Linked DNA regions of Homo sapiens. The protein of the gene in region 3 purifies or fractionates together with the protein of the main gene of each other region. This does not show direct contact. Each region holds a gene or a part of one and is shown on either strand. Other genes may lie near its edges. The genes, in order: RBFOX3, DCAF4, TCF7 and MAN2B2.

Evidence for each region.
Region 1: the proteins of TCF7 (region 3) and RBFOX3 purify together in Homo sapiens (affinity purification with mass spectrometry; one large-scale study listed by BioGRID and IntAct). This does not show direct contact.
Region 2: the proteins of TCF7 (region 3) and DCAF4 purify together in Homo sapiens (co-immunoprecipitation; one large-scale study listed by IntAct). This does not show direct contact.
Region 4: the proteins of TCF7 (region 3) and MAN2B2 purify together in Homo sapiens (affinity purification with mass spectrometry; one large-scale study listed by BioGRID and IntAct). This does not show direct contact.

The regions. Positions count from the first base shown.
Region 1 is NC_000017.11:79,087,691-79,095,515, forward strand, and holds the end of RBFOX3 (RNA binding protein fox-1 homolog 3), read right to left. Parts: coding exon 7,823-7,825; intron 6,840-7,822; coding exon 6,761-6,839; intron 4,952-6,760; coding exon of another isoform or gene 4,907-4,951; exon of another isoform or gene 4,257-4,906; intron 3,196-4,256; coding exon 3,193-3,195; 3' UTR 1,655-3,192; downstream 1-1,654. UniProt on the Homo sapiens protein: Pre-mRNA alternative splicing regulator. Regulates alternative splicing of RBFOX2 to enhance the production of mRNA species that are targeted for nonsense-mediated decay (NMD).
Region 2 is NC_000014.9:72,951,384-72,959,208, reverse strand, and holds part of DCAF4 (DDB1- and CUL4-associated factor 4), read right to left. Parts: intron 7,412-7,825; coding exon 7,332-7,411; intron 5,049-7,331; coding exon of another isoform or gene 5,046-5,048; coding exon 4,947-5,045; intron 4,824-4,946; coding exon 4,726-4,823; intron 3,687-4,725; coding exon 3,513-3,686; intron 2,824-3,512; coding exon 2,709-2,823; intron 598-2,708; coding exon 404-597; 3' UTR 1-403. UniProt on the Homo sapiens protein: May function as a substrate receptor for CUL4-DDB1 E3 ubiquitin-protein ligase complex.
Region 3 is NC_000005.10:134,139,950-134,147,774, reverse strand, and holds part of TCF7 (transcription factor 7), read right to left. Parts: intron 6,980-7,825; coding exon of another isoform or gene 6,887-6,979; intron 5,591-6,886; coding exon 5,471-5,590; intron 5,055-5,470; coding exon 4,892-5,054; intron 4,783-4,891; coding exon 4,675-4,782; intron 4,184-4,674; coding exon 4,135-4,183; intron 2,979-4,134; coding exon of another isoform or gene 2,764-2,978; exon of another isoform or gene 2,035-2,763; coding exon of another isoform or gene 1,924-2,034; exon of another isoform or gene 1,575-1,923; coding exon of another isoform or gene 1,552-1,574; coding exon 1,472-1,551; 3' UTR 1-1,471. UniProt on the Homo sapiens protein: Transcriptional activator involved in T-cell lymphocyte differentiation. Necessary for the survival of CD4(+) CD8(+) immature thymocytes. Isoforms lacking the N-terminal CTNNB1 binding domain cannot fulfill this role.
Region 4 is NC_000004.12:6,607,963-6,613,188, reverse strand, and holds part of MAN2B2 (epididymis-specific alpha-mannosidase isoform 1 precursor), read right to left. Parts: intron 4,083-5,226; coding exon 3,891-4,082; intron 3,392-3,890; coding exon 3,139-3,391; intron 2,310-3,138; coding exon 2,199-2,309; intron 2,104-2,198; coding exon 1,911-2,103; intron 1-1,910.

The DNA.
Region 1 (7,825 bases), on a different chromosome or scaffold from region 3:
CTGTGACCCCAGCTGGAGCCCACACCTAAGGGCTGGCATCCACATCATTTCACCCTGCAGTGAGGGAAGAGGCCACCAGGTGGCAGCACAGCCACACCCGTTCCCACGTCAGAGGAGGGCAAGGCTGGGTACTCAGCAGCCACTCTGAGCCGGGGCTCCTTCCAGGAGCTGAAATCCACCTGTCTCCATCTTCCTTGCCTGCCTGGGTACTCATGCCAAGCAGAGACTGGGATTAGGGGTTCTGTGCTCTTGCCTAATTAGGAACATTCTCCCATGTCTCTTGTGTGGTCCCAGAAGGAGAAGTGAGTTTGCCAAGGATATGGGGCAGGAGGCTCCCTCTGCTGACCCCCTGCAGCCTGGAGCCAGCCCGGGGACTGTCCTGGGTGGAGGGCAGGTGAACACAAGCTGCTGCCGGGGACTGTCCTGGGTGGACGGCAGGTGAACACAAGCGGCTGCCGCATGTAGCCACTCACTCGACTTTTTTTCAGCTGTGACCATTCCCGGGAGCTCTTTGAGCCTTTCTGTCTCATTTGGAACCAGGGGGAACCAGGAAGGGGCTCCTGGCCTCTCTGTGTCCTCTGCAGTGGGGGTTGTGGGGGGCGCAGCATCCACGCCTTGCTGCCCTTCTTTCATGAAGTCTGTTTTTTAAGTGCTGGTTCCCCCGAATATTTTATGCAGAGGAGGGAAAATTTATAGTGGCAATTATTTTCTCACAGTCTGGTGAGCAGGCAATTAATTAGGAGTAAGGGGGCCTAGTAGAGCGTGGCGTGTGGCAGAATCGCACCGCCCCGGCTCCCCAGCCCACCGCCATGCAGGGCTCGCGTGCGGGAAAACTAATATGCCGGCGTTTAAGCCTGTGCCCCTCTGCTGGGTGTAACTGCGCTGAAATAAATGATCTGACAATGTGAAGCGTGCAGTCGAGTCCTGGTGTGATGGGGCGCGGGCAGCACCAGCCCGGCCCTGGATGCTGGCTCCCTGTCCAGCCCTGGCCCCAGCCCCAGGCTTCTGAGCTCTGGGTTCAGGTTCTGCCACTCGTCTTCCCATCTCCCCGCTCAGCTGAGCCTTTGCAGCTGTGCTCTAGCTCCTACCCACCTTCCAGGAGGGGTGACTGGGGCTGGCGAAGTGGGTTTACCTTGAAGCAACATGGCTCCTTGTGGGCCCCAACAACTCAGGCTACACCAGGCGTGCAGAACTGGCTGGAGCACCAGCCATCTATGCCTCTGTGCCATGTCCCCCCACCCTCCCAGCTCCGTGCTCTTTGTTGCACTGGGTCGACCAAGCACAGCTGTGTGGTCACCAGTTCTAACCTTTCTGCTTCCTGGGGTGCATTCTGCTCTGAGGTCACGCTGTGTCCAGCACATGCTGTAACCAGGAAAGAAGGGACCAGGGCTGGCCTCGACCTGAGTCCGAGAGGCAGGCCAGGCAGCACAGATATGCCATGAGCTGCCACCCACCCAGCCTATCCTGGGGTGGGATGCAGACGACCAGCCTGGACTTGAGGATTGGGACTGGAAAGTCTAGGGCCTTCTGACACCATTGCCACCTGGCTGTAGGCCAAGGCAGGGCTGCATCCCGTCCTGGCCCCCGTCCTGCACCCTGGGCCGCTATGCCCTCCACCCACCATGCCCGGGAGCTGCCAGAGCATACAGAGTTGTCCTGGTTTGAAGAAAGAAATCTTTATTAATAATCTTAATAATACTGTTAGTTTGAATGGTCACACCTTGGAAGCATACAGAATGGTAAGAAAGGAAGCCCGGGGCTCGGCTGCAGTCCTGGGGATCTGAGTGAGTCGGGGGGTTGAGCTGCTGCAAGAAAAGGGTCCGGAACAGCAGAGGGGACAGGGGGCTCTGTACAGAGGACAAAGCCGGAGGCAGGGCGTGGGGCTATGTACAACGGGAATAGAAAAGGAGAATTCCATTTCAATAGCTGATGCTGAATAGAAAGTGAGGTGTATTTTTAAATTTTTGACACTTCATGAGACAGTGGAGCCACGTTGGGAGCCTGTATTTTTTGCTGCTTCCCTACTTCAGTGCTCCCTGCCTCGCCAGGGGTTCCTCCCTGCCACCTGCTCTGCTCCTGCTCCTCCCACCGGGTAAGCCTGGCTGTCCTTGGTGCTGCTCCCGCCACCTGGACACCTGCCTTGGGAGCAGGGAAGGGGCCGGCCCAGGCTTCCCCATCCCTTGCCCTTCCCATGGGCCCCTGCTCTGGCTGTGCCCGTCCAGGCCCACAGCCACTGTGACTCCCAACCTCGCGATGCAGCCGGGCGCTGGCCCGTCCCTGGCCCTGGGCGCCCACGGTGGACTGGGCTCACAGGGGAGCGGCAGGGAGGGCTGGGTCCCAGCAGGCAGCACGAGGTCAGCCTTGGTGTACACAGGCCCCGGGCCTCCTCCAGAAAGGGAGAGATGGCCAGGAAGAGCAAGTAAGTCCTTGGCCTCAGGGCCCACTTGGCCACACTTGGAGGTGTGAGGAGTGGCTCCTGGCTGGCTGGGCTTCCTTCGTCCTCCCATGGAGCGCCCCTGAGTCCTGGAGCCACGTCAGCCCTTTCTGTTGGGAGCTGGCCCCGGGGCTACTGTTGGACGGCTTCCTCGCCAGGCTGGGGGCACGGGCGGGACTGCCGGGCAGGAGGGAGGTGGGACGCAGGGGACGCGACAGGAGGGTGACGGGGCCCAGTGGAGCCCCTGGGATGAAAGCTGCCCGCACCCCTCAGCCCCGCCGGCCCCCTGGCACAGCTGGCCACAAAGATCAAGTCTTGCTAGCAGCGCCTGCCTGCTCAGGCCCGGGCCTGCTCCGCCGCCGCTGGGCTCCACACTGTCTGTCTTGGGAGTTGGGGGCTGGGAAAGGAAGACTGGATGGAAAACAGAGCCCCCCACGGGTCCCACAAGGGAGGCCCCTTCCCCTCCAACTCCCCCACTGCCTGAGACGGAGGGGCGTGTTCCCACTGTGCTGCCAGCCAGGACGCGGTGGGGCCGTCCTGTCCTGGGGCCGCTCCTCGGCGCCCCTGCCGGCGTGCTCCCTCGGTGCGGGCGTGTGGCCAGGACGCGGGACTTGGACTTGGTTGGATGCCTCTTGGTTTGGTTGGTTTTTTTTTTGTTGCTTGGATCTTAACATCTTTTTTTGTTTTTTTTGTTTTGTGATTTTTTTTGTTTTTTTGTTTTTGCCCTTCATGGTCCGAGAAGGAAACGGTGGAAGGTTTCACTACAACAGAAACAGAAAGGCAGGACTTGCAGCTTCTCGGGGGAGGCACAGCAGGTGTGAAGGCGACAGGACCACGTGGCACGGGGCCCCTGGCCTAAAGTCCTGGCGCCGCCACACCTGCCCCCCAGGTTTCCAGGACCCTCATCTTCCAGGGCTGAGTGTGGGTGGATCCCAGGATGGGGCCCAGGCAGCCCAGGATGGGAGGAGACACCTGGGGCCCTGAGGAGGAGACAGAGCTGAGCAGGGCAGGGTGAGTGGAGAGGCTGGGCCAGCACAGGCTTCGAGGCGGCCTGGATGAGATGGCAGAGGGTGATGGTCTGGCCACGGGAGGTGGGGGAGCCGGGCCCCCCACGGCAAGGGCCTGGTGGGCGGCAGGACTTCAGCCCTCACTGGTGGGGAACCCACACCCTCCAGCTGGCCTTCCAGCCCCAGGAGCCCAGCCGTGGCACACTCAGAACCTGAGGCTACTTTTCCCTGTCATGGAGGTACAGATCTGTGTGCCCCAGGCCAGTGCCAGGAAAGGACTGTGCCTGTCTTGGCTGGCTTTTCCTAGGCAGGCCAGCAAGCTGCCCACGGCTGTGCTCAAGTGAGGTCCCAGCCAGTGTCTCCCCAGAAGCGCCATGCACCGGGCTGGCCAGTCCCAGGGCTGAGGAAGGAGTGGCCCGCAGGCCACAGGGCCCTGCCTGCAGTCTCCCTAATGCAGGGAGGGGACTGACCTGGGGCTGACCGGCCTGCGCTCAGGGGAGGGCCTGAGCAAGGGTGCATTCTGCCCCTCATCAGCTCTCCTGCCTGCTGAGGACCCCTCCTTCCGGAATATACCCCAATAAAGACATTTCGAAGCTTGGGGACAGGGAAAGTAGGCTGTGCCTCCAGGACAACCCCCTTGCAAGGCTGGCCTGGCCTTGGCCCTGCGGTGCTAAGGGGCTCCCTGAGGAGCGACCAGGACGTGCCTTTCCACATTTCCACTTTCTGCTGCAGCAGTGCTAAGGAGTCGCAGAGACTGGCGTGACCACAGCAGTTTGCACACCACGCGACACGCTTGTGACTACGTCGGCAAGAAATATCGTCAATAAAATTTAATGAAAAATATTAGTTTCAGCTGAATGGGGCGAGGAGGGGCAGTGGCTACTCCTGTGGTTGGCTGGGTGAAGGCCTGCGGGAGCACCCTCAGGCCGGGGAGACCCACACTGGGTGCCTGGAGCCCCTCCCTCCCTGCGTCAGGGTGCTGGACACTAGGGCCATGGCACGGGGCTGGTCGGGTGGCTTTGGGGGAGGCCCTGCCAGGCGTTTCTGTTGTTCTGTGCAGCCTGGGAGGCCAGGAAATGTGGCTCTTGCCCTCATAGGGCGCTACCGCTACTCCCAGGTTGGGGGCTGCCTGGTCTCCTGGCCCAGCCTGGACCCCACGGTGTGCACACCGTACCTGCAATGGCTTGGGTAGTACAACATCAACAAAGTCAAAATAGGAAATCACGGTTGCAGACATACAGGAAAAACCAGGGTCAAAGACACACACACCAGCACAGGTGGGGTGGGGAGACCAACTGGCTGGAGAGAAATAATCTATAGATTTTAGAGTTGCAGGGGGCCAGCCGTGCGTGTCGCTGACCGGGAGGGGTGCACTGTCTTCTGGTGGCTGTGCCTGGTTTTGGGCTGTTGGGTTTGGTGTGTAATAGGCAGTCAGTGTGAATGCTGTTAGGGGCTGGGTCTCTTGCTAGTAGGGGGTGAAGCGGCTGTACCCTCCTCGGCAGAGGCTAGCCTGCAACATCAAAGATGAAAAACAGCCAATCAGTACCGTCTTTTGGAAGAGGGGAAAAAGCAAAAAGAAAAAAAAAAAGGAAAAACAAAAAGAGAAATAGCCAAGTCTCGATTTCTTTCCCCCTATATTCCTTGGGGAGAAAGGAGTTGGGTTGTCATGGCAACAGGAAGAGTAGGACCTGCCTCTGACATAGTGGTCTTGGGCCAGTGTGGGGTGCTCTGGGGTCATGGCCAACAGTGCTTCTAGGTCACAGCTTGAGTTATGTCTGGGTCACTTCTCTGGGCTCAGGCCTGGCCTCTCACTGTCCTTATGCAGAGGGGGGGTCCCAGCTTGAGCCCCACCTCCTCGCACCCCAGCAGGGTGGCACGGGGCATCTTCAGAGCACTGAGGGACCTCCTGGCGGGTTCCTGGGCCTTGGCTCAAGAGCCTGGGGCCACTGAAGCCAGCTACGCTGGGAGAGGCAAGCCTGCTGGGCATAGTGTTCAGAGCCTTGCTCTCTGGGGGGGTCTCTGGGTCCTCCTGGGCCCACCTGAGGCCCAGCCCTGTCCTACTGGGGAGAGCGGGTCCTGGATGCTCCAGCTCTCCCATGTCCTGGGCTGCCTCCAGTCAGGGAAGGCTCTGAAGGGGCCTCCCACCCTCCCACCACCCAGTTTTCCCAGAAAAGAACAACACAGCAAGTGCAAGAGAAGAAAAATTGGGGAAAAATAGAAAATCTTAAAAATACAAAGTGAAAACACAAGAGGGAACCCTCCGTGCGTTAATGAAAGCTTTTAGCTTGCAGCTGCACGGAGGGCCCAAGAGCCAGGGTATCACACCTCCATCCGGGTGGGGCCGCACCAGACCCGCGCCTGTGGCTGCCCACAGCCACCACAGGCTGCTGGGGGTGTCTGAGGCTCGTTAAAAATTGAAAAAAAAAAAAAAAATTGGAGGGAGTCATCAAAACCAAGAAAGATGGGAAAAATCCATATTGCCTCTGAACCTCCTCCCTCCTCACTCTCCCAAGATGTTTTCATCTTTGATGCTGGATGCCAAGCTAGCTAAAACCCGTGTTCACACCCCGGGGCTGGGGCCAGTGGGTACAGGAGGCAGGTGTCTGCTGGAAGCAGCTCTGGGTGCAGAGTGAGCTGGGCTGCACGTGTCAACAGCTGGCCACACACACACACACACACACACACACACACACACAGAGACACGCCACGCCGCGCACCTCCCCGCCCCGCCCCTTCCACCCCACAGCCTGAGGGAGGAGGCTGGGGCAGAGCAGGCACTGTTTCCCCAGGACGCCAGGAGCCCCCAGGAAGCCAGGAGCTAGAGCCTGGTGAGAAGCAACCGGTAACCCACACTCCCCTCTCGGATGCGATGCGAGGGGGCTGCAGCAGTGCGGGTGGGCCGTGGGTATGCGGTGTGGGCAGAAACAGCCCCGGGGCCTTGGGAGCCTCTGCTGGGAAGGAGAGGCGGCCCTGGTTTGGTTTCTGAGGTTTTCCTGGTGGAAATGGGAATGGAGGGGCCTCAACGGGACTTTATTATAGTGAGGGAGCTCAGGGAAACGGATCAGGCACATTGGGGTGCTTTCCAGAGGACCAGATGGTACGGTGGGCTGACCAGCCATTCAACCTGCTTCCCCGCAACTGAGAGGGCGTGAGGGGCCAGCCCTCCCCTCACCCTAACTCACATCCAGGCCGTGGTCCTTCCAAAGTCTCCGGGACCAAGGCATTGGTCAGAGGGCTCGGCCTCTCCCCCAAGGGCCTCACCACCCATGCCCAGCTGTTAGGACTGGCACCCAGGGCTGGGCGGGCCTGGGCTCCTTACCATGGTTCCAATGCTGTAGGTCGCCGCGGGCCCGATGGTGTGATGGTACGGGTCGGCAGCTGCGTAGACTCTGCCGTAACTAGGGAAGAGCGTGGGAGGGGGAGTGGGAGGAGGGTGGGGGAGGGGGGCAGGTGAGGGGCAGCAACGGCCTCCCACCTCCTCCCAGACACTACATGGGCACCCTGTACCGAGGTCCCATCTGCAAGGCACCCTCCCCTCCTGCAAGGCCTGCAAGGCCTACCCCTCCTTCTTGTTAAGAAGGAAGCTTCTGGAACACAACAGGCAACCCTCTCAATATGCCCACAGTGTGCTGACCCTGACGGGGTGGGGGGAGGGGGTGTGTTCCACTCAGTGCTACGTGGAGGGGGATGGTGTCCTCATGGAGCTCGTCTGCAGGGAAAACAAACTTCCACCCCAAAAAGAATGTGGTAAATACTGGGGAGGGTTTCAAGAGAAGAGAGAGGGTCAACGAGGAGGGACCAGGAACACTGCCCCCAAGAATGTGACACTTGTGTCCCTCACGACTTTCCCTTCAGCAGTTTGTCTGTGCAGGGAACTCTCAGCTCCTTAGAGAGCAGAGCTGGGCCACGGCACCCTGTACACCACACTTCAGGGAGATGGAGCCGGGGCTGCCAGGAGGGAGGGGGTACAAGCGGTCCCCAGACCAGAGTGGTGGAGCTCAGCTACCAACAGGCCAGATGTCTGAGGGGAAAGGCACTAGGCTAGGTTGCTCCAGGAGGAAGCACTCAAGCGTCTGCCTCCAAGACAGACAGCCACTGTGGGCACGGGGCTTGCGGGGGGCGGTGGGGGGACTGGGAATCAGAGATGCGGTCTCCACCTGGGGTTTCCACAGCCTCCCCATGGGGTAAGCAGGAAGTGACTGAAGTCAGGGGCTCACTGGCTCAAGGGCCACACTCAGACCTGCTCCCCTGTCCCGACCCTACTCCCGCCAGGCCTGGAAGAGTGGGTTACGCCTCCTGCCTGTCTGGGCCCAGCTCCCCAGGGATCCTTGTCCATCTTCTCCCCACCCTGCTCCAGAACAGTGCTGGCCCCCGGCCTCACCTG
Region 2 (7,825 bases), on a different chromosome or scaffold from region 3:
CAGGCACCGAGGACTCAAACCATCTCACCGTCTCATCACTGGGCTTCTTCAATGGGCTCTTGGAGGAAGAAGCTTTTCGTTTTTGCCAATCTTCAGTCCTTAGAAAAGTCCTTTTTGTTAAGAAAAGGCAGGGAGGGTTAACTAAGTTCTAAGAATTCAATAAGAAAAGGAAAGAGGTACCTTTTATGAAAAGGACTTCCAAGCTCTCTCAGCCAGCAATTTAACTCAAATAACTTTCCTGAGCATCTCCACACGGAACATTCAGCACTTCTCTCCTAGCAGCCAGAGGATGGGATCTGTGTACACTGAGTGTCACTTAAAACACCCTCATTAGATGCAGTAAAAAGTTACGCTTTACTCCCGTAAGTCAAATCCACATGGCTCTGGGCTGTGCCCTGCAGAATTAGCTGTAGGAGTAACAGTAAAGGTCCTGCCCGACAGCCATGAGCAGCCCCGGCGCGCCCCGGGAGCCCCCCAGCCGCGACGAGAAGGCCACACTGGGAATGTCGGCCTTGGAGGCAGGGTACGGGGAGGGTATGGTTCTCAGTAGGCGGGCATCGTGGAGGCTCCAGATTCTCGTGTAGCAGTCCTGGCCCACTAGGAAAGAGGAGAGACACATGGCAGGCTAGTGAGAGAATGCAAAGGAAAACTTACCTACATGTGGACATGGCTTCCCAAGATTCCTCAGGGCTGTGATTTCATGTGAGCCAAAACACAAACTCATTAACGGACAGTATTTCTACGGATAACCCAAGTCGCCCTGTTGTGCTAGAACAATGACAAGATGCCCTGGTTGGCTGTGTGATGCCATGAATGGCTCGGAGACATCCTGGCTAATGTCTGGGTATTCTGCTGCTCTTGATGTCACGGAACGTTCAAGTGCGAGTGTGGCCCACCTGGTCTAGGTGACATGCAACTGATTTCCCCCATTTTTTAGGGACAGGGTCTTGCTCTGTCGCCCGGGCTGGAGTGCAGTGGTGTGATCAGGGCTCACTGCAGCCTTGAACTCCTGGGCCCAAGCCATCCTTCTGCCTCAGCCTCCTGAGTTAACTGGGACTACAAGTGTGTGCCGCCATGCCTAATTTTTTTTTTTTTTGAGATAGGGTCTTGCTGTGTTGCCCCAGCTGGTCTTAAACTCCTGGCCTCAAGCTCCCTAAGTGCTGGAATTATAGCTACCACACCTGGCCTGATCTTTTCATGTTATAGTAAAAGATCTGTCAAAGTCATTACATCCTGGGGATGGGCTAGGTTGACAACTCTCCCCACAGCTCTTTCTGGTTTAATGCTTCAGTTCCTAGGACCGGTTTAAGTCTTCAGGGCTCCAGTTCTGAGGACTGTGACACACAACAGCATGGGTTACAGCAGCCCAGAAACATGATATACACTACTGGAGACCTTCAGCAGGAGAAGAGGACAGGCCTTGGGCAGTCATGGATTTCACATTTGTGATTCTGATCACTTGTGTGGCTCTAAGACCAGAAGTGCTATCTTGGCTGAAGCTGAATCCCGGCTGCAGTTTATTACTGCAGCTGGTAACTACCTGCATCTGCCTCTCAGCAAGGCTGAGCTCTCTCTATCATCCAGCTCACAAGAGCTCTTCTGTGATAAAAACAGGTGAAAAATCGACTTAAAAAGGAGGCGAAGTCCTGGTGTTGATGAGAATAGTAAATAAGTCTATGAATGTCCTAACAAAGTAATGCTTCCTAGCCACAAAAATGTTCCATGGGGTATAAGCCCTTTCTATAGGAATACCAGTAGAGGTGACAATTCTTGAAGACTGAGAACACATTCTGCAGTGTCAGCAGCTACTATTTCAGTGTGAAAGCATTGAGCCTGCACACTGTCTGATTACGCTATAGCCACCATCATCTGTAATCAACTGGTAACTCCCTTCCAGGGGGCTTAGTGGCCAGATAGCTGCTCCTAATCTGCAGATCATGGAGCCACAGGGATGGTAGTAAAGGGGCCACAAATCTTTTTTATTTATTTATTTATTTTGAGACGGAGTCTCGCTCTGTTGCCAGGCTGGAGTGCAGTGGCGTGATATCGGCTCACTGCAACCTCCGACTTCCTGGTCCAAGCAATTCTCCTGCTTCTGACTTCCGAGTAGCTGAGAGATTACAGGCAGGTGCCACCATGCCCAGTTAATTTTTGTATTTTAGTAGAGATGGGGTTTCACCATGTTGGCCAGGATGGTCTCAATCTCCTGACCTCGTGATCCACCCTCCTTGGCCTCCCAAAGTGTTGGGATTACGGGCGTGAGCCACCGCGCCGGGCCGGGGCCAAGAATCTTTACAATGACCATAACTTCTTTTCTCAGCATCCTCTGGTGGAAATGTGAGTAGAGACAACAGGGAGCCCAAGTTTTTGGATAAGATAGTTGCGTGGTGGAATAATGCTGGCCTGATGAAATCCACTCAAACTCCAAACCCAGGCTCCCCAGGACCTCCCCACCTGCCTGTTTCTGAAGTGACGTTTGCCCACTGACATGGGATGAGGCTGTCCACCTGGTGGACATTTATTTACACTCCTGATTACTAATATAATCTAATTCTACTTCCCTCCTAGTCTCCCCACCCAGCTGTCCACACTCCCCTTGATTCAGTTCTGTTTTGGGGTAACTTTTCCCTCTGCTGCTGAAGTTGCTGGGATCGCCCCTGAGAGACAGTATTTGATGGGGTGGAACTTCCCCTTCCTTCCTCAAGTACCTGCCACCAGGATTCCTTCTTCCTCGTGCACATGCAGGGGCAGGTAGGCGTACTCATTCACGTGGCCTTCGTACTGCCTTACGCACTTCGTGGTCCTCAGGTCCCACAGCTTGATCTGTGGAAAAAGCACCAGGGGCCATCAGGGAGGGGCCAGGGGGTACCATGGTGGTCCCCAAGTGCAAAGCCAGGAAGGCAAGGTGGTCTCCAGTGGCCTGTGCAGGTCATGAAGATCTCCATCTCGAATTCTTGAGCCTTGTTGTTCATCAAAAGCATGTAACCAGGCCGGGCACGGTGGCTCATGCCTGTAATCCCAGCACTATGGGAGGCCAAGGTGGGCAGATCATGAGGTCAGGAGTTCGAGACCAGCCTGACCAACATGGTGAAACCCCATCTCTACTAAAAATACAAAAATTAGCCGGGCGCAGTGGCGGGTACCTGTAATCCCAGCTACTCAGGAGGCTGAGGCAGGAGAATCGCTTGAACCTGAGAGACAGAGGTTGCAGTAAGCCAAGATAGTACCACTGCACTCCAGCCCGGGCGACAGAGCAAGACTCCATCTCAAAAAAAAAAAAAAAAAAAAAAAAAAGGACATAACCAGAGAATCCTTTTCACTTTTGTTTACGTCAGATTAGGCTCATATGGTCAACGAAGCAGTCCCCATGCAGGGCCTACAAATCACTTGGTCTTCAGCGAAATTCCCCTGCCTGGGGTCTTGGTGTGAGGACCTCTTCAGCAGAACCCTTTCACCTGGCAGGGCACTGGGCCACGAGACCCTGTGGCCTGAGAAAGTCCATGATCCCCTACCTTTCCAGCCATGTCTGAAGCCATCAGGTATTGCTCATCTTGGAGGATCCGCACAGAGGTCACTGCTGAATCATGAAACAGGCGGGTGGCCTTCCATCCCTTGCCTTGATTTCCACAACGCAGATCAATGGCAAAGATTTCCCCAGAGCGGCAGCCATTAAACAGCAGAGGAGCCTGTGGAAAGAGGGACTGCTCAGTGCCTGGCTATCATGACATCCCTCTGAGGCTGGGCAGGGCAGGTCCTCCTGATACAACCCCTCTTCCAGCCTCTGGGTCAGACGGTGTGATTAGACACGTGCTGGTCAGGGTTTGGGTCTCAATGGAGTTGGAAGGGAGGATGATTCCTTGTTAGTGGCTAGAAGAACCAGACCCCATGTGTCCTCCTCATGGGTAGCACGGAGGTCCTAGGAGCTGCCCCCCACCCCCCTGCACTGTCCCGTTTGGCCTTTCTCTCTGAAGTCCCAGAGATAGCATTCCATCTCCACCAAAAGCAGGTTAGTGGGTTCATTCACTTTTAAGGGAAGACGGCATTTTCTAGAGAAAAGTCTGTGAAATATAGTAATGACCACAATTTTTTTTTTTTTTTGAGACAGAGTCTTGCTCTGTTGCCCAGGCTGGAGTGCAGTGGTGTGATCTTGGCTCACTGCAACCTCCGCCTCCCGGGTTCAGGCAATTCTCCTCAGTCTCTCGAGCAGCTGGGATTACAGGCGCCCAGCACTATGCCTGGCTAACTTTCGTATTTTTAGTAGAGAAGGGGTTTCACCATCTTGGCTAGGCTGGTTTTGAACTCCTGACCTTGTGATCCACCCATCTTGGCCTCCCAAAGTGTTGGGATTACAGCCATTCATTAGCCACTGTACCTGGCCTGATTTTTTAAACATATAAAATATATAACCTGGGAGCTGTGAAGAATTGGTGTTTGGCTTATACATTTTAAAAATGGTTTGTCCTACTGGGTAAATCCAAGTACCCAAGAACTGCTCACAATACCTTTCCATGAGAGGTTGTGTAGAGCAACTCAGGCCAGCCTTTCTGGATCAACCAACTTTCACTCGGCTCAGACACCCTTACAAAGGAACCCACTGATCCTTTCTGATGCTCTTTCTCCCCTGTCAAAGAGTACTAGATGGCACACAGAGGAGTCCAATTTCAATCTGGCCAAATTTCTACATGGGGCAAACTTTTATATTCTGCCTGTCCCAATCCAACCAACCATGAGAGCAAACTGCTGGGCCAAGACATCACTGTTGGTCCCAAAGGACTGCCGGTGTCCCGTCACCACGTTGGTCAACAGGACCCGCCGAGACAAGCCTGGCGGAGACAGAGATGGGCTGGTAAGATTATGTCACATGTAGTCTGGGGAGAGGGACAACTACATGGGGTTTTAAGGCCTGTTAAGGCCTCTTCTCTGGGCACCTGGGGAGCCAGGCTCACCTGTACTGAAGCAGTTATTTGCTTGGATATTCAGGGACCAGGCACAGGACCAGGCACCAGGGATCCGGAAACTGCAGAGCATGCCAGGCCGGTCTATTCCTGCTAAGGGGATAGGAGAATGTAAAGTGTGGCTGCCTTCTAGGCAGGCCAGGGACCACTGGGTTCGGAAAACATCCAAATATGCCCATAGCTGCTCAGAGGGTCTATACCTTTGGCCCCATTCTGGGTTTTGTGGTTGCAAGAGAGACTCAGCTGGGATGCCTGGCTCACAAGTGGTTATTCCGAAAATGCATCTTTGTTAACGTTCCCAGTAGTCGTGTTTACAGTACGAATAGTACTGATATCAGGGAGGTAGTATACTGTTGGAGGTAAGGTGGCTCCGATCCTCGATCACCTACCAGCTATGTGATCTCAGGCAAGTGTGTGTGTATATACACACACACACACACACACACACACACACACACACACACACACACAAATAAATAAATAAATAAACTATATATATATATATATATATATATATATATTTTTTTTTTTTTTTTTTTTTTTTAAGACAGGGTCTTGTTCTTTTGCCCAGTCTGGAGTGCAGTGGCGTGATCATGGCTCAATGCATCCTCAACCTCCCAGGCTCAAGGAATCCTCCCATCTCAGCCTCCCAAGTAGCTGGGATCACAGGTGTGAGCCACCACACATGGCTAATTATTTATTTTTTGTAGAGATTGGAGTCTTGCTATGTTGCTCAGGCTGGTCTTGAACTCCTGGGCTCAAACGATTATCCTGCCTTGGCCTCCCAAAGTGTTGAGATTACAGGCATGAGCCACTGTGCTTCGAAAAAATATTTTTTAAAATAAACTTTTGCATTGATAGAACGTACAGATTGTAAGGATACAGTTCAGTGAGTTATCACAAACTAAATATAGCCATGTACCCACCACCCAGGTTAAGAAATAAAACAATCCATGCCAGGCGTGGTGGCTCACGCCTGTAATCCCAGCACTTTAGGAGGCCGAAGCGGGTGGATCACCTGAGGTCGGGAGTTCGAGACCAGCCTGACCAACATGGAGAATCCCATCTCTACTAAAAATACAAAAATCAGCCGGGTGTGGTGGTACATGCCTGTAATCCTGGCTACTTGGGAGGCTGAGGCAGGAGAATCGCTTGAGCCCCAGAGGCGGAGGTTGCGGTGAACTGAGATCGTGTCATTGCACTCCAGCCTGGGCAACAAGAGTGAAACTCCATCTCAAAAAAAAAAAAAAAAAAAAAAAAAGGCCGGGCATTGTGGCTCACACCTGTAATCCCAGCACTTTGGGAGGCCGAGGCAGGTGGATCACGAGGTCAGGAGTTCGAGACCAGCCTAACCAACATGGTGAAATCCCGTCTCTACTAAAAATACAAAAATTAGCCGGGCGTGGTGGTGTGCGCCTGTGATCTCAGCTACTTGGGAGGCTGAGGCAGGAGCATTGCTTGAACCTGGGAGGCGGAGGTTGTGGTGAGCTGAGATCGTGCCATTGCACTCCAGCCTGGGCAATAAGAGCAAAACTCCGTCTCAAAAAAAAAAAAAAAAAAAAGACAAGACAAGACATAAAACAATCCAGTACCCCAGAGGCCTCCCTCACATCCCTTTCCCAATTACTACCTCCCCAAAGGGTACTGTGAGCCTGACCTCCAACACTAAAAATTACTTTTGTAAGACAAATTCTGAAACTGTCTGCCTCAGTTTCCTTATCTGTAAAATGGTGGTAAGACACACTCCTGCCTCATAAGCTTGCTGTGCAATGAAATACCAGGCACTGGGCTAAATGTGCATGATCTCACCTAATTCTCCACGGATGTGGACTGAGAAGGCCCTGTCCACTTTAGAGAGGTTCAACATTCCATTCAAGTTGGCAAGGGGCAGAGCTGGGATTCGTGCCAGGTCTGCCTGAAGCCCACACTCTTAAGAGGCCTCTCACCCTGGTCTTATTGATCCTAATTTTCTGATAGACTGAAATGTAATATCCAGAATGCTGTCAGGAAGGAGGAGTCAAATTGCCTTAACGTAGGCAGACTGTTAAGTATCCCTGATAGCACCTGAGGTGCTTTGGACCTTCAGAGGTGTTTTCTGAATGATGTGCACGGGCGTCCGAATCTGTTCTGAGCTCACGCTGGTTTACATGCGTGTTAAGTCTGCTCTGGCTGCTGAAATGACTGAAATGGCCCAAGATGGGTAAAAAGGGGCAGATGCTGTAAAAAAAACACATGCTTCTGGTACTAACCCTGGGACAGGCTTAGGGAATCCTCCCACAGTGCCTCTGCAGCGGCCCCATACTTCTCTCTAAGCCACCCCCACACAGCTCTCGGGAGACAGAGGACAGATTTCTTTAAAGGAGGAGAACCCTGTACCTGGGTGACTATTGACGAACAGTGATGCTGGGAGCAGGGTGGCACAGCCTGGAGTCTCTGCGAGTCCCATGAGGCATAGCCTGGAAAAAGCTGTTAAGGACAGTTAGGCACAAGGCTCCCCTCTGGGAGGAGGCATGGACATTTACCCTTCAGAAAGTCATACGGCACACAACCTAGGCCAGAGTAACCCCCACCGTCCAGATTCAACATGCGTTTACACTGCCCACATTTACCTTCAGATGTTTTTTTTTTGTTTGTTTGTTTTTGAGACGGAGTTTCGCTCTTGTTGCCCAGGCTGGGGTGCAATGGCGCGATCTCGGCTTACCGCAACCTCTGCCTCCCAGGTTCAAGCGATTCTCCTGCCTCGGCTTCCTGAGTAGCTGGGATTACAGGCATGTGCCACCACGCCCGGGTAATTTTGTATTTTTAGTAGAGACGGGGTTTCTCCAAGTTGGTCAGACTCGTCTCGAACACCCGACCTCACGTGATCCGCC
Region 3 (7,825 bases):
CAAACTACTGACGTCAGGTGATCCACCTGCCTCGGCCTGCCAAAGTGCTGGGATTACAGGCGTGAGCCACCGCGCCTGGCCCGGCAGCCCTTTTTCTTTGGATTTAGGCAAAAAACAAAAATTAAATTAAAGACTTGTTTTTCAAGGCTGAGGGTTGAAGCTTGGCTCAAAAATGGGTTAACGTAGGCTATGGTGAAAACCTGTTGTCCACTACTGGAGGTTTTCTGGGCTCCTTGATCTAGTTGTAATGGTCCTCTGTCCCGCAGCCCCATGGGGAAACTGGAGCCGGCCAGGCGGACTGAATGCTGAAAGACAGGCTCTGGCTGTCATGAGGTTTTGGGTTTGCCCTCTCAAGCTGCCCAGGAGCTGGCTGGACTGCCATAGATGAACTGGAAATGGAATTGTGAAAAAGGCTCTGTGAATGGGGAGGGGTGCACACTGGATTTGGGCCATGACTTCTTTGAACTGTTGACTGCAGCTGCTAGTGACAAGCCTGGGGCCAGAGCTTCTTAGGCTGGTGGGTTTCTCAGGGAACACTTCCAAATAATTTGAACTAGAGCTAGATACACCCTCCCCTCCCCAATTTGCCTGATAAGGTAGTGTCAGATTATTTCTGTTGCTTAGGTTGATAGGCCTAAACTTAACCTATTCCATTCCCCTTCCTGCTTCTTGCAAGCTCCTGAGATCATAGTAAGGGGCTTCCTCTGGTCCAACTTATGAGTAGCAGCTGGTTTTGTTTTTGTTTTTATAAACAGAGCTTCTCCATTTCCTTAGAAGAGCTGTCATCTTGAGCTTTGTGCTTGTGACCATGCTCACATGTTGTTTGACAAACCAGCTCATTCTTGGTCCATGAAGTGTCTGAATGGGGAGGGTGTGGCAGTGGGGGATGGGGGAGATGGGTAGAGAAGGTAGCTAGGCTCAGTTCAGCCCATCTCTGACCTATAGCAGAAAAGCTAGGGAGGCAGAGGCTTCTGGCTGGCAAGACAGATGGTACAAAGAATAGATGCAGGCAGCCATAGGTACAAGGGATTCCCTTAATTAGATGACACATCAAGACAGATCTGATTCCCACCACTTGGAGCAGTTTGAATCGATGACCCCAGGTTCAGGCAGAAGTCCTGCAGCCTCTGAAATCTTCAGGGTCTGGACCCTGAGATGACGTTAACAGGACCCCTGGCCAGTTTCCATGAGATCTGGGTCTCTGTCACTTTCAGGGGGTAGGCTCCTGGAGGCGGCCAGGTGTCCTGTGCCTGCTAGGCCACCTGTCTCTGAGATTCCTGTTGCTGTACCTGTGTGCTCTGCAGGGTGCTGCGGGGGGCCTGTGGGGGCCCTGGGGTTGGGAGGCTGAGAGCAGTGGAGAGACCTGGGGATGTAGGTGCCGGCTCCGCAGGGCTAGTAAGCAGTTCTGTGGGGAAGCGGGGCAGCAGATGGTATGAGGGTGAGTCCTGGGGAGCTGGGGACCCGGGGCAGCCTAGAGCACTGTCATCGGAAGGAACGGGGCTGGGGCAGCGGCCTTCTCCGGGTAAGTACCGAATGCATTTCTTTTTCCTCCTAGGAATAGTGAAGAGAGTTATCTGTAAACAGAGGGTGAATTCATAGTCATACACCACAACCAAAAAATGCTGCCTTTGCACAGGCCTGGCTGATTCCTTGTCCTCTCTTCCTGGGACTTGGGTGGTAAGTCAGTGTCCTCAGACTGCCATTCTGCTTGGTCTGGCCCAGACCTAGGACAGGTGCAGTTCCCAGAACAGCCACAAGGTGGCAAAGGGGCCTTTTGTCACTAGGCCTATGGGCTGTCATCTGTCTTCCAAGGGAGTCATCTCTCCTGTCTTCCAAGGGAGTCATCTCCCAGTCCCGGCCTTTGAGCTTCTCCAGATGTGTTTGTGGGACTCACATCTGCACCAAGGCAAGGGGCCGCAATGCCTATGGCTTCCTTGCCCAGCCATCCCAGTCCTCAAGCTGGGCTAGAGGAAGAAGACATGGACAGTGACTCTTGTCCATTACCATCCTTGAGTTCTCTGGGCCAGTTTGTCTCTGATGGAATGAATGGAATAGAACTTCCCCTGAAGACAGGGTTGTTTCCCACCGTGCATATGTATGTGGATACACAGACACACCCCAAACTCCTCCTTGCCCTTGGACAGGGAGTGTGGTGGGTACACTGAGAGGCTGGACAAGTGTTCCTTAGAGCCAGTGGCCTTACTGCCTGGAGTACCCTCTATCTTAGCCCTGCCAGGCCTGGCCTGAAACTGACTGAGGAAACTTTAACCACTTGTTGGGTAAACCTTGTCACACCCACAAGTATTTCTCTGTTGTATGGTGAAACACATGAGCCCTTTCCCTCAGACAGCCCAGGGTACCCCCTGGGTCCTCTCCCCCAGCCTCTCCAGCCCTTTGGTATCAGTAGGTACAAGATAGCAAGTCATAAGGCTACCTGGCAACCAGATGGTTCTGTGTTGTTGTCACCTTGCTTTTTCAGATTAAGGGCTCAGGATGGTACAGGCAGGGATCCCATCTTGAAGAGGAAGTGAGGGAGCCCATGGGCCATAATGACTTTGAGGCCTGGTAGAATGGGCTCCAGGCCCCCTTAGTGGTGGCTGAGCTGTCTGTTTGCTGAGGACCTGCTAGGCCCACTGGCATCAGAGCTGCCTTCTTGAGTCTGTCCTTCCTTTCTGGAACATTCTGTGTCTTTCTCTCCAATCCTCCTGCACTTAGACCCAAGTGGTCTTCTCCACGCGCTGTGTTCAGTATTTACTACTATTCTCAGGAGGCCTGGGCTCCCAATCTGCTGAGTATGCTAGTGGGCTGAGGGGCCAAAGGAGTGGGCTGCAGGCCCAGTGGAACATGTGCAGAGTCAGGGAAGCAGCTTAAAGCAAAGGGAGAACGATGGTGGGGACAAACCCACCTGCACGGACCACACCAATCCGTCTGCTGGTTGAGGCCAAAGCGAGCACGGCATTTCTTAGGCGAGCCAGGGTCTGCTCACAGCCATGCCAGAGGGGTAGAGCAGGGCAGAGGGCGAGCAGGCAGCGGGGCAGAGCAGGGCCCAGAAAGAAGAGGTAACATCAGTGTTAGCCAGTTATAGACACCCTACAGCCCCCATAGGCAGAGTGGGCCTCTCCATGGCACAGCCAGCCCCAGTGGGAGCCCAAGAGCCCAGAGCCAAGATATCAGGAAAGGTGGGCACCCAGGTACGCAGTAGAGGCAGTGGGAAGAATGGGAGGGAGGGAGTCCTGTCAATCTGGCTCATCTCTGTGGCTTGTGGGGCCCTTGCAGCATGGAGGCTGCAGAGGGGCCCAAGGAAGACCATGGAGATCCAGCCTTTTATGCCCTAGGGCCACCCACCTCCTCCCCAACTCCCTACCCATTTTATCCAGTTTTTCTTCATTCTTGACCTACATTCCTTCAAGGGATAAGGCTGAAGGCTATACCTTATGCTGTTCTACACACTTGCAGATGGAAGGAAGGGCCTATTCTTTGCCTTGGAAAAAGGGCTAGGAACTCTGCCCTGCTCTGTCCCAGTCCTAGCCTCCAGCTTCCCTGTGTGGGGACAGCACGGCTGAGGTGGTCAGGGATGTGGAGTCTCAGTTACCAGAGAGGCAGGAATTCACCCTTAGGAAGGAGGCCTGCAGCAGGGTGTGGGCTTCTCTACATAGAGCACTTTGCACTGCCATGAAAAATGTTGAAGTGGGGGTGATAAATTGCCAGGCTCCAGCCAGTAGGCTGTGTGTCTACTGGGCCTAGTCATGGGGCCTAGCTCAGCCTCTCCCAGTCTCAGCAGAACTAGCCAGGACATTGTTTGGGCTAAGCATCAAACCATACAGTCAGTTCTTTGCTGGTTTCTCTGGTGAGTGGAGCTAGCAAAGGTAGTGGGTGCAAGGCAGAGGAACGCACCATCTACTCCAATTCTACCCAGCAGAAGCCAGTTCTGCTGGGTTTCCCTGGGACTTAGTATAATATAGCTGTTTCTTGCATGGGAATTTGACTTGTGAGATGCAGGCCTTGTTTTCATAGGCCCCAGGCCCTGAAGGCTCCTAGCTGGGTACCGCGTTCCTCCCTTTGGGTCAGAGGAGGGCTGCTCTTGAAATGGGGACATGGAGAGGAGCCTCCACTGCTGCTGAGAGAAGGTCTCACCTGTGGTGGATTCTTGGTGCTTTTCCCTCGACCGCCTCTTCTTCTTCCCCTGCAGGGAACAAAAGGAGGGATGCTCAGATCTGGGAGGCAGACATTGGGATACCCACAGCCTGCTGCCTAGCTTGGGTAACCCTGGGATTCTGGGCGTACAGGCCCCTCCTACCTTGGGGTGCTGGTGTTTCTTGATTGCTGGTCTTGCTAGGCTGCTATGGAGTGCATTTAGAAGCTCTTCCCTCACCCCAATCTGGTCTCCAGTTTGAATGGAAGGAGGTGACTTCCAGACCCCTTTCTCCCCTTCTGCCCATGTGGCCCAATCAAATGTTGGGTAACAGCTCATGTGTGAGCATATTCTGGAGTGGAGAATAGGATGTGGGCTTGTCCTCTTCTGAGGCAGCCATGGGAGGCCTTGGACCCTCCGTGCCCTTCCTCATCGGTGCCTTCAGGACAGTAGTTCTGCGTTCCTTACTGAGATTGTGGCCTGGGGCATGGTATCTCAAAGGGTCCCCTGCCCACCCCTGCTGTGTGTCACTAGGCACTCACGTAGTTGTCCCGCGCTGACCAGCCTGGGTATAGCTGCATGTGCAGCTGCCTCTCCTTGCGGGCCAGCTCATAGTACTTGGCCTGCTCTTCTCGCGACAGCGCGTGCCACTGCAACAGGGAAGAGGGGCAGGTGGGGTGCATCAGGGAGTCAGCAGGCTGCACCAGGCTGAAGATGGTCGGGGAGCATCCCTGCCAGCCCACCTGCCCATGGTCTCACCCTGCGGCCCAGGATCTGGTTGATGGCAGCGCTCTCCTTAAGTGTGCACTCTGCAATGACCTTGGCTCTCATCTCCTTCATGTACAGCATGAAGGCATTGAGGGGCTTCTTGATGGTTGGCTTCTTGGCCTCCTTCTCTGCCTTGGACTCTGCTTGTGTCTTCCTGAGGGGCACAAATCCAGATTGTTCAGGAGCCCCCCGAGTGCCCACCTAATTGCAGCCTCCTCCTCTAGCGTGGGCCTAGAGTGTGCCTAAGTGTATGATACCAGAGTTTTCTAAGTGGAATCTTTCCTAGCTGCCCCCAAATGGGTGAGCAGACAGCTAAGTAACTGTTCCTTATAGGAACACTACAGACAAGTGGGAAAAGCATGTGTTAAGGACTTCTGAGCCCCTCCTCTGTTGGCTCAGAAAAATCCTTGTTCCCCATCCCACCCACCCCCTCCTACTTCTGAGGATCAAAAACATAGCCAGAGGCACGAAACAGCTTAGGCAGGGACCTCGTGGCAGTCCTCAGGCCTGGTGGGGAGGCATGTGTATCCTGACTGACACACCCCCTGCCATCATTGTCTTTTCACTCACAGGTTGCGGTCGAAGGGCTGCAGCTCCTGCTTCCCTGAGGGGGGCACAATGGCCGGGTGGGGGATGGCTGCTGGGTGACCAGGTACACCAGAACCTAGCATCAAGGATGGGTGGGTGAACCTGGAGGCAGGAAGAAAGTTAACACTGAGCCAAGAATTATGGGCCAGACCTTTGGACACACACAGAGGCCCCTGCATAATACATAACTTGAGGACACAGGTGAACAGATAGATACTCTATCCTACTGGCCTAGACATAAGTACACAGAGATAAATACAAATACCTGCTCCCAGCACACTACACAGACACACTGCAAAAATCTACATAGATTGCCATTCAGATGGTTACTACATAGGTCCCAAGTAGCTTTTGAATCTGTCCCCTTCTCACGTCCTTCCCCTACCAACCCAGCCTCAGGAGCCTGTGGCTGCCCTGTGAGGCCTCATCCCTCTCCTGCTTGACCCTTCCAGGCCTCTCTCCACACAATAGCCAGAGTAACCATTAGAGACACCTGAATGTTCCTGGCCTGCTTCGGCTGAAATTCCCCCAGCGTCCAAAGAATAGAACCCAGGCTGCTCCCAAGGGCCTGCACAGCCCTGCATGAGCATCCTGCTGCTGTTGCTAGCCCCTTCTCTTCTCCTCTGCTTCCTGTCCCTCTCCGTTCCCCGGCAGCCCCAGTTATGGCTGTTCCCTTGTTTTCTTCTCGCAAAAGATCTATTACTCTTTCCGCGAAGCTCTCCCTGACCCATCAGGCCTGGTGAGGTCTCCTTGGGGCTTCCCCATCACTCAGCTGGCCCATTAAGCTGCCGGTGCCATGTCTACACTTGCTATACTGGGCTGTGAGCTCCAGTGGGCAGCAAATGTCTGTGGAATCCCCTGCCATTGCATATTTGCACTGAGTCTGTCACTGAAGGAGTGACCTAAGTGAAGGGATCCATGTACACACACCTCCCACTTCACTTTCTTGCTATTCTGTGGAGACCATTCTGCCCCTTACTGCTTGCACAGGTATTATCCCTGAGCCAGCAGCCCCTAAGGGTCAGAGGTTGGGGACTTAGGTAAAAGGTGCTGTCTCAGCTTGGGCAAAGCTCAGGGGATGCCCAGGAGAGTCCTTCTAAGTAGGGATGAAGAACAGAGGTGAGTGCACACACATCTGCACACGGGCTGAGCCACATATGCCTGTACTGTCCTGGCCTCTGTGGTGCTCTGCTGCACGGTGTGGCCCAGGCTGAGGCCTCTTGGCACTTGCACTAGCTTCATTCTCAGGCACAGGACAGCAGGGGGCTGCAAAATGACAGACGGACAGATGGACAAACGACTAACACAGGGCAAGCACTGGCCTGGGCATGGCCTTGTGTGGGCTCTGAAGCCTGGGCAACAGGAAGCAGGAGCCTAGCTGCAGTGTAGGGGACTCACCTGGGGTAGGGGGCGCCAGGGGCTGCAGTGGGGGCAGGGAAGTGCTGTCTATATCCGCAGGAAGGGGACAGGGGGTAGAGAGGAGGGCTGGGCCTGTGGTTGGGAGAGATAGCTGTTAGCAGTCTGGCTGCTGGCCAGACACGAGGAAAGACTTCCCTACCTTGCTAGGCAGGCCTTGACCCATCCTGTGAGACAGATGGGCCTCTGCTGGAATTTCAAGCATCTGCCACCAGAGGGCAGCTTGTGCGGTTTCCCTCTATAAACTTGTATGGGTGCTTGAGGGATGGAAATGGTATCCTTCTCCTGGGACCCAGCTTAGCAGGCCCCTGGGCCCCTCCAGCCTGCTTCTGTTTCTTTGACGGTATAGGGCTGATATCTGTCCTGGGGCCATTGCAGCCACTGTTAACACTGGATTGTTTTGCACCACTTTGCCTGCTTCAATTCCTGGTCATCCTTCAGGTCTTCCTTAGCTAAGTGACCCTTCCTCCTCAAATCCCTGAGATTCCAAGCTGGATGAGGTACCTCTCTGGGCTCCTACAGTCCCTAACTAGAGCACTACCAACAGTGCCCTGTAACTGTCTGGTTTTTTGCCTGGGTTGCCCACGAGGTAGACTGAGTTCTGAGAGGGCAGGGACCTAACGATCAGTTGGCTTCAGCAGTGCCGACTTCCCTGGTGCCCAGAACCCTGCCCGGCACACAATAGGGCTCAGTGGAGAGATGGCTTAAATACCCCTACTTCTTTCCTCACAGCCAAGTGCCACCGGGTGGAAGCCGAGAGCACAGGGCTGCCTGAAGTCCCCTCCTTACAGCCTTGGTGGGTAAAATCTGCTGTAGGCTCAACTCTCTTGGTCTTCAGCACTGCTGGCCTAGGGGATGCTTTTGAAAGGCTGGCCTACAGATTTGCATCCACGGAACCCTGGTCTAGTCCAGTAAGGCTGG
Region 4 (5,226 bases), on a different chromosome or scaffold from region 3:
CTGGAGCTACCATCTTCTTACAATACCCCAGGCCATGCTGATTGGTCCAGGCATGGGCCACCTGACCCCAGTAGGACCAATCAGAATCTTTCCCTAGGACTTTTGCACTTGGAACTGGAAAGTCCAAGTCTTAGGTCCTTTTGAGTGGGGAAGACAGAGCTGCTCTTTGAGAGCAGCCCCAGAGCTGTTCAGAGTCACATCCCAGGTGGGAGGTGAAGGAAAGTCTGCAGACAGAGAGAAGTGCAGGTGAGAGACGAACAAGGACAGCCTCACGAGGGCTCCAGGCCCTGAGGCCCAATTACACCCTGCCCTTCCCTTGGTTATGTGGGCCTCACCATACACTCTCCCTGGGGGCTCAGCTAGTTCAAGTTGGGTTTCCGTTACTTGCAACCAACAGAGACCAGAGTGAGGCCAGGTGGGATGGAGCTGACAACAGCCATGGGGCTTTCTCAGACATGGCCTCATCTCCCTTTGCAGGAAAAGCCCCAGCTACACAGAAGGAACCACTGACTGGTCTGGGAGCAGAACCTGACCCTGCTAGGCCAATCAGATTTCCTCTTCTGGGAATCTGAAGCAAGGGAACCAGAGGTGGCTCAATGGCCGTCCTGGGAGACATGGCTGTGAGCCTCTGCTCCTGATATGCCTAGAGCTGCCCTGCCCCATGCCTGTCTGGACCTTGTATCCAGCTCCTCCTTAGATTCCATGAGCTTCTCCAGGCTCTGCCCAAATAGCTGCCCCTTCAGGCTCTGTTACTTCCAAAGAACCTTAATTGACACCCCCTGGACCTGATCCCTGACCTCCTCCCAGCTGTGGTCTCACACTCCTCTACACCCACGAAACACCAGGCCCTCTATGGCATGGCTCCTTCTCCACCCTGAATCCTGGCTCTATACGAGCATGCCTCCCCTGTCCAACAGCCCAGGAAAACTCTCCTGGGTCCGGGCTGCTCTTCTGCATCTCCAGTGTATGGCACAGGCACACTGCAAGTGCTCAGTATATGCTTGTTGCATGGGTGAGTGACAGCCTGCCTGCTGGCTACTGCCCTGGGTTCTGGCTCTAAAACCAAAGCAGGGAGAACCTTAAAAGCACATGCTAATCAAAACCTCCATAGGTGAGTAGAAAAAGAAAAGAGTTTAAGGATTAGTGAGAATGGCAGCAAATTGTATCTAGGTCTTGCAGCTCCAAAAGACCATCTTTAAATGTAATCATTGTTTAATGTTTCTCATGTTCTGCTACTTTATAGAGACACAGAACTACATGGTTGTTGATCTGATCTACAGAAGCTCAGTGGAGGTACAGAATAAGTCCTTTAGGTTAGACTATAGATTAGAAAGACCCCCACCTGGTGACAGCACACCTAGATTCAGACCCAACTTGTCTTTTATTTTTACTTTTGAGACAGAGTCTCGCTTTGCCACCCAGGCTGGGGTGCAACGGTGCAATCTCAGCTCCCTGCAACCTCTGCCTCCCGGGTTCAAGCGATTCTCCTGCCTCAGTCTCCCGTGTAGCTGGCATTACAGGATTACAGGCATGCGCCACCATGCCCAGCTAACAAACCAGTCTTTTAAATGCTAAGCCTCCAGACCTAAAGTGACATGGTGACATAATGTCATATTAAGAAAGGAAAAGATACATCAGAGAAGAAAATGGAGAAGATACAGGGAAGAGGCATATGGTGAAATGGGTGAGTCCCAGCTCTGTACCTCCTAGTTGTATGACCTTAAGTGAGCCACTGTTTGCCCTCAGTTTGCCCATCTGTTAAATGAGGGGCTTGGGCTAGAGGTCCCTGAGGTCGCTTCCTGCCCAAAAGCTGCCCAGAGTCATGAGGGCACAGGCCCCTCCCAAGGCCCGCCCTGGCCTGGCTGGTGCTGAGGCAGTGATGATGTTACTCTGAAAGGGTGCCCCTTTACCAGCGAGGTCTCCGAACAGCACCACGGGCCTGTGCTGCAGCGCCAGTGCGCTCCTCTGGCGCAGGGCAGTGGTGAGGGACCAGGATCCCAGCAGAAGCCAGAGCACTGGGTGGACGACTGAGGTGTCGTTCAGCGTGAGGTTGTAGCCCAGGTCCCAGTCGAAGTTGTTCCACAGCCGCCGGTGGAGCATGACCTGCGGGAAGGCATTGTCCGAGAGGCCCGGCTTGCACCTGGGCATGCCTGTAGGGGGCCGCGAGGGGCTGCTGTAGGACAGACCGTGCCTCCTACCTCCACCTGCCCATTCCCTTGGCTGGAGATGCCATGTGCCCGCTCCGACAGCAACACAAGCCTGCTTTTGCCATCCTCCATGAAGGCCGACTGAACCATGGGGTAGTAATTCTGCAGACAGAAACATCGCCAGGTGGGCGATTGGGGCAAAGGGCAAGGTAGGTCAGGCATCACCCTCTGGCCACCCCAGCTGGTGCTCCCCATAGGCACAGCAGCAGCATGGGGCTGGGACCCTGACTTTGGAGACCAACAGACTGGGGTTCAGACACCAGCTCTGTGGCTTCCTAGCATACAGCTCAGCTGACATGGGTGCAGGCCCTGGCCAAGCCCTGGCCACGCATCATCTCATGGATCCTCAGAATGACCCTTTGATGAAGGAGCCATTTTACAGGAGAGGAAACCGAGGCACAAGCCAAGGCACATACTATTCTTGTCTGTGGTAGCACCAGAATTCAGACACCAGTCTGACTCACAGCCTGCACGCTCAAGCCCTGAACGGGCAGATACACAGGCTTTAAAAGAATTCTCTCTGGAGGCCGGGCGCGGTGGCTCACACCTGTAATCCCAGCACTTTGGGAGGCTGAGGCGGGTGGATCATCTGAGGTCAGGCGTTCAAGACCAGCCTGGCCATCATTGTGAAACCCCATCTCTACTAAAAATATAAAAATTAGCTGGGCATGGTGGCAGGCGGCTGTAATCCCAGCTACTCGGGAGGCTGAGGCAGGAGAATCGCTTGAACCTGGGAGGCAGAGGTTGCAGTGAGCCAAGATCGCTCCATTGCGCCCCAGCCTGGGTGACAGAGTGAGACTCCATCTTAAAAAAAAGGAAAAAAACATTCTCACTGGAGGCCTCTACTGGCCTCTACTGCTGCAATTTGATGCTTAATGGGTCCAGGAAAGGCGCCATTGGGAGCGTGCCTTGTGGGCATTGCAGGACATACCCGGGCGATGCTGTTGTTCACATAGGAAACGTAGGGCCTCCGCTGCATCTGGTAGCCGTTGTTGTCTGAGTAGATGACCTGCTGGCTGTTTAGGTTGGTGCTGGTCCTCAGGACAGCCTCACGGTTCAGCTCCAGGGGGCCGGCTTGGTACTCCTGCTCTATCCGGTGGCAGAGCAGCTCCCCGTCATGGCCCTGCGGCACATGGGTGAGCCGGGAGCGGATTGCATACGTGTAATTCTGTGCTGTCATGTTCCTGGAGGAGAAGGGAGCATCAGTAAGTGAAGCTCCAGGAACCTTCTAGATGCTTCCTTTTTGCTTCCCTTCCTTCATGTGGGCAGGGTGGGCAGGGCAGGGTACGCCGAAAGGCAGGGAGCCTTCTTGGGCCATGTGGACAATAGCACCACCCAGGACCCCGAGCGGCTGGGAGCAGCCTGGTTCCCCGACACCGCAGGGCTGCCATGCCGGGCCTGCCTTACGTCTGCTCTGATCATGGAAGAACAGGTGCTCTGTGGGCCCCAGGGTCTGTGGGTCTCTCTCCCAGCTCTGAACTTAGCTCCCAACCAACGTGACACAGCACACGCAAACGCAGCCAGCATGCAGACACCAGAGCAATTCATTTCTTCATCAGACCACGTGTCAACCACGGCCCGGAAGCTGGGGTTCAGAGCAAAGACAGACCCTCATTCACTGAGCTGCCTGCACGCGTGCGCTGACTGTGTGCCGGGCTGTGGGGGTCACCCCAGGGGAAGCACCTGTAGAAGTACTGCCGGATCTCAGTCACAAGCTGTCCCGCCACAATCTCCATTTCCACAGCTTCCCACGCAGGCACCGCGGCCTTGCCCGGTGTGAACAGGTAGTTATCGGAAATGGGGCCCTGTTTCACATCCCCGTTGACGTGGTACTCCAGGAATTCCTGGGTCACGCGCACCGTTCGGTTACTCTGTCTGCAGAGGCAGGAGAGAGAAGATGTCATTCTCATCCTGCACAAGGTCTTACAGACACCGGCTGGCAAGCCTCTCTCTCCAGATGCCATCTGAGTGGCCTGCGTAGCACTCACGAGGCCATGTGACTCAGCTCATCTAGAAGCCCTGAGACCCCACCCACAGCCAGTGTGGCCTTAGACTCCATGCTGTCCCAGAATGGGTCACAAACGAGGAGACGGACAGAGCCTGCAGACAGGAACCGTGAGCCGTCAGCAGAGGGCACCCCCAAGAGATGGAACTGGCTCACCCAGGCTGTGGTCTGCAAGCGAAACCAGTGCAGGAACGGGCTTTTGTCATGCTGACTCTGAGCTGTCCAGCAGGACACCCATGTGTACAGACCCCATGTCATGGGCCAGAGCCTTCACTGACTTCACCTGGTTAAATTCTCCCAACCCCCAAAGGCAGGGACTGTTAACCCATCCCACTCCCGAGGCATCCGAGGCTGGAAGTTGTGACATCATGTACCCAAGATCACACATCTAGGAAGTGTGCAAGCCAGAACTCAAATTCAGCCCCGACTTTAAATTCTGTGCTCCCTCCCTTCTATTAGGATGTTTGTGTTAGGACAGAGGATGGGAGAAGAGCAGGAGGGGGTCAAGTATTTTAATTGTAAAATGCAATATTTGGCCTAACCAAGTGCACAAGTGATGTATTTGTATCTGAGTCTGGCCTGGCTGTGGGCGGACAATGAGGTGGATGGCCTCTGCACCCACTTCTCTGTGGGATTGTGGTGAGGGTGGGGAAGGAAAGGGAGGCAGGCTGTGGAGGGTTCTACTGAGTGCTGGTGGAGGAGGAGAAAGAAAAGAATTGAGGCCTCTGGCCCTGGACCCCTTCCCCGCACGATCCTTTTAAAAAGCTCCCCCAGGGGCCATCAAAAGAGTAAAAAGACAAGCCATGGAATGGGAGGAGGGATTTGCAAATCATAAATCTGACAAGGGACTTGTAGCTAGAATATATAAAGAACTCTTACAACTCAATAATAAAAGACAAGCCAATTTAAAAATAGGTAAAGGATCTAAAGACACATCTCACCACAGAAGATATGCTAGTGACCAGTAAGTACATGAAGAGATGCTCAACACCATTAGTTAGCAGGGAAATGCAA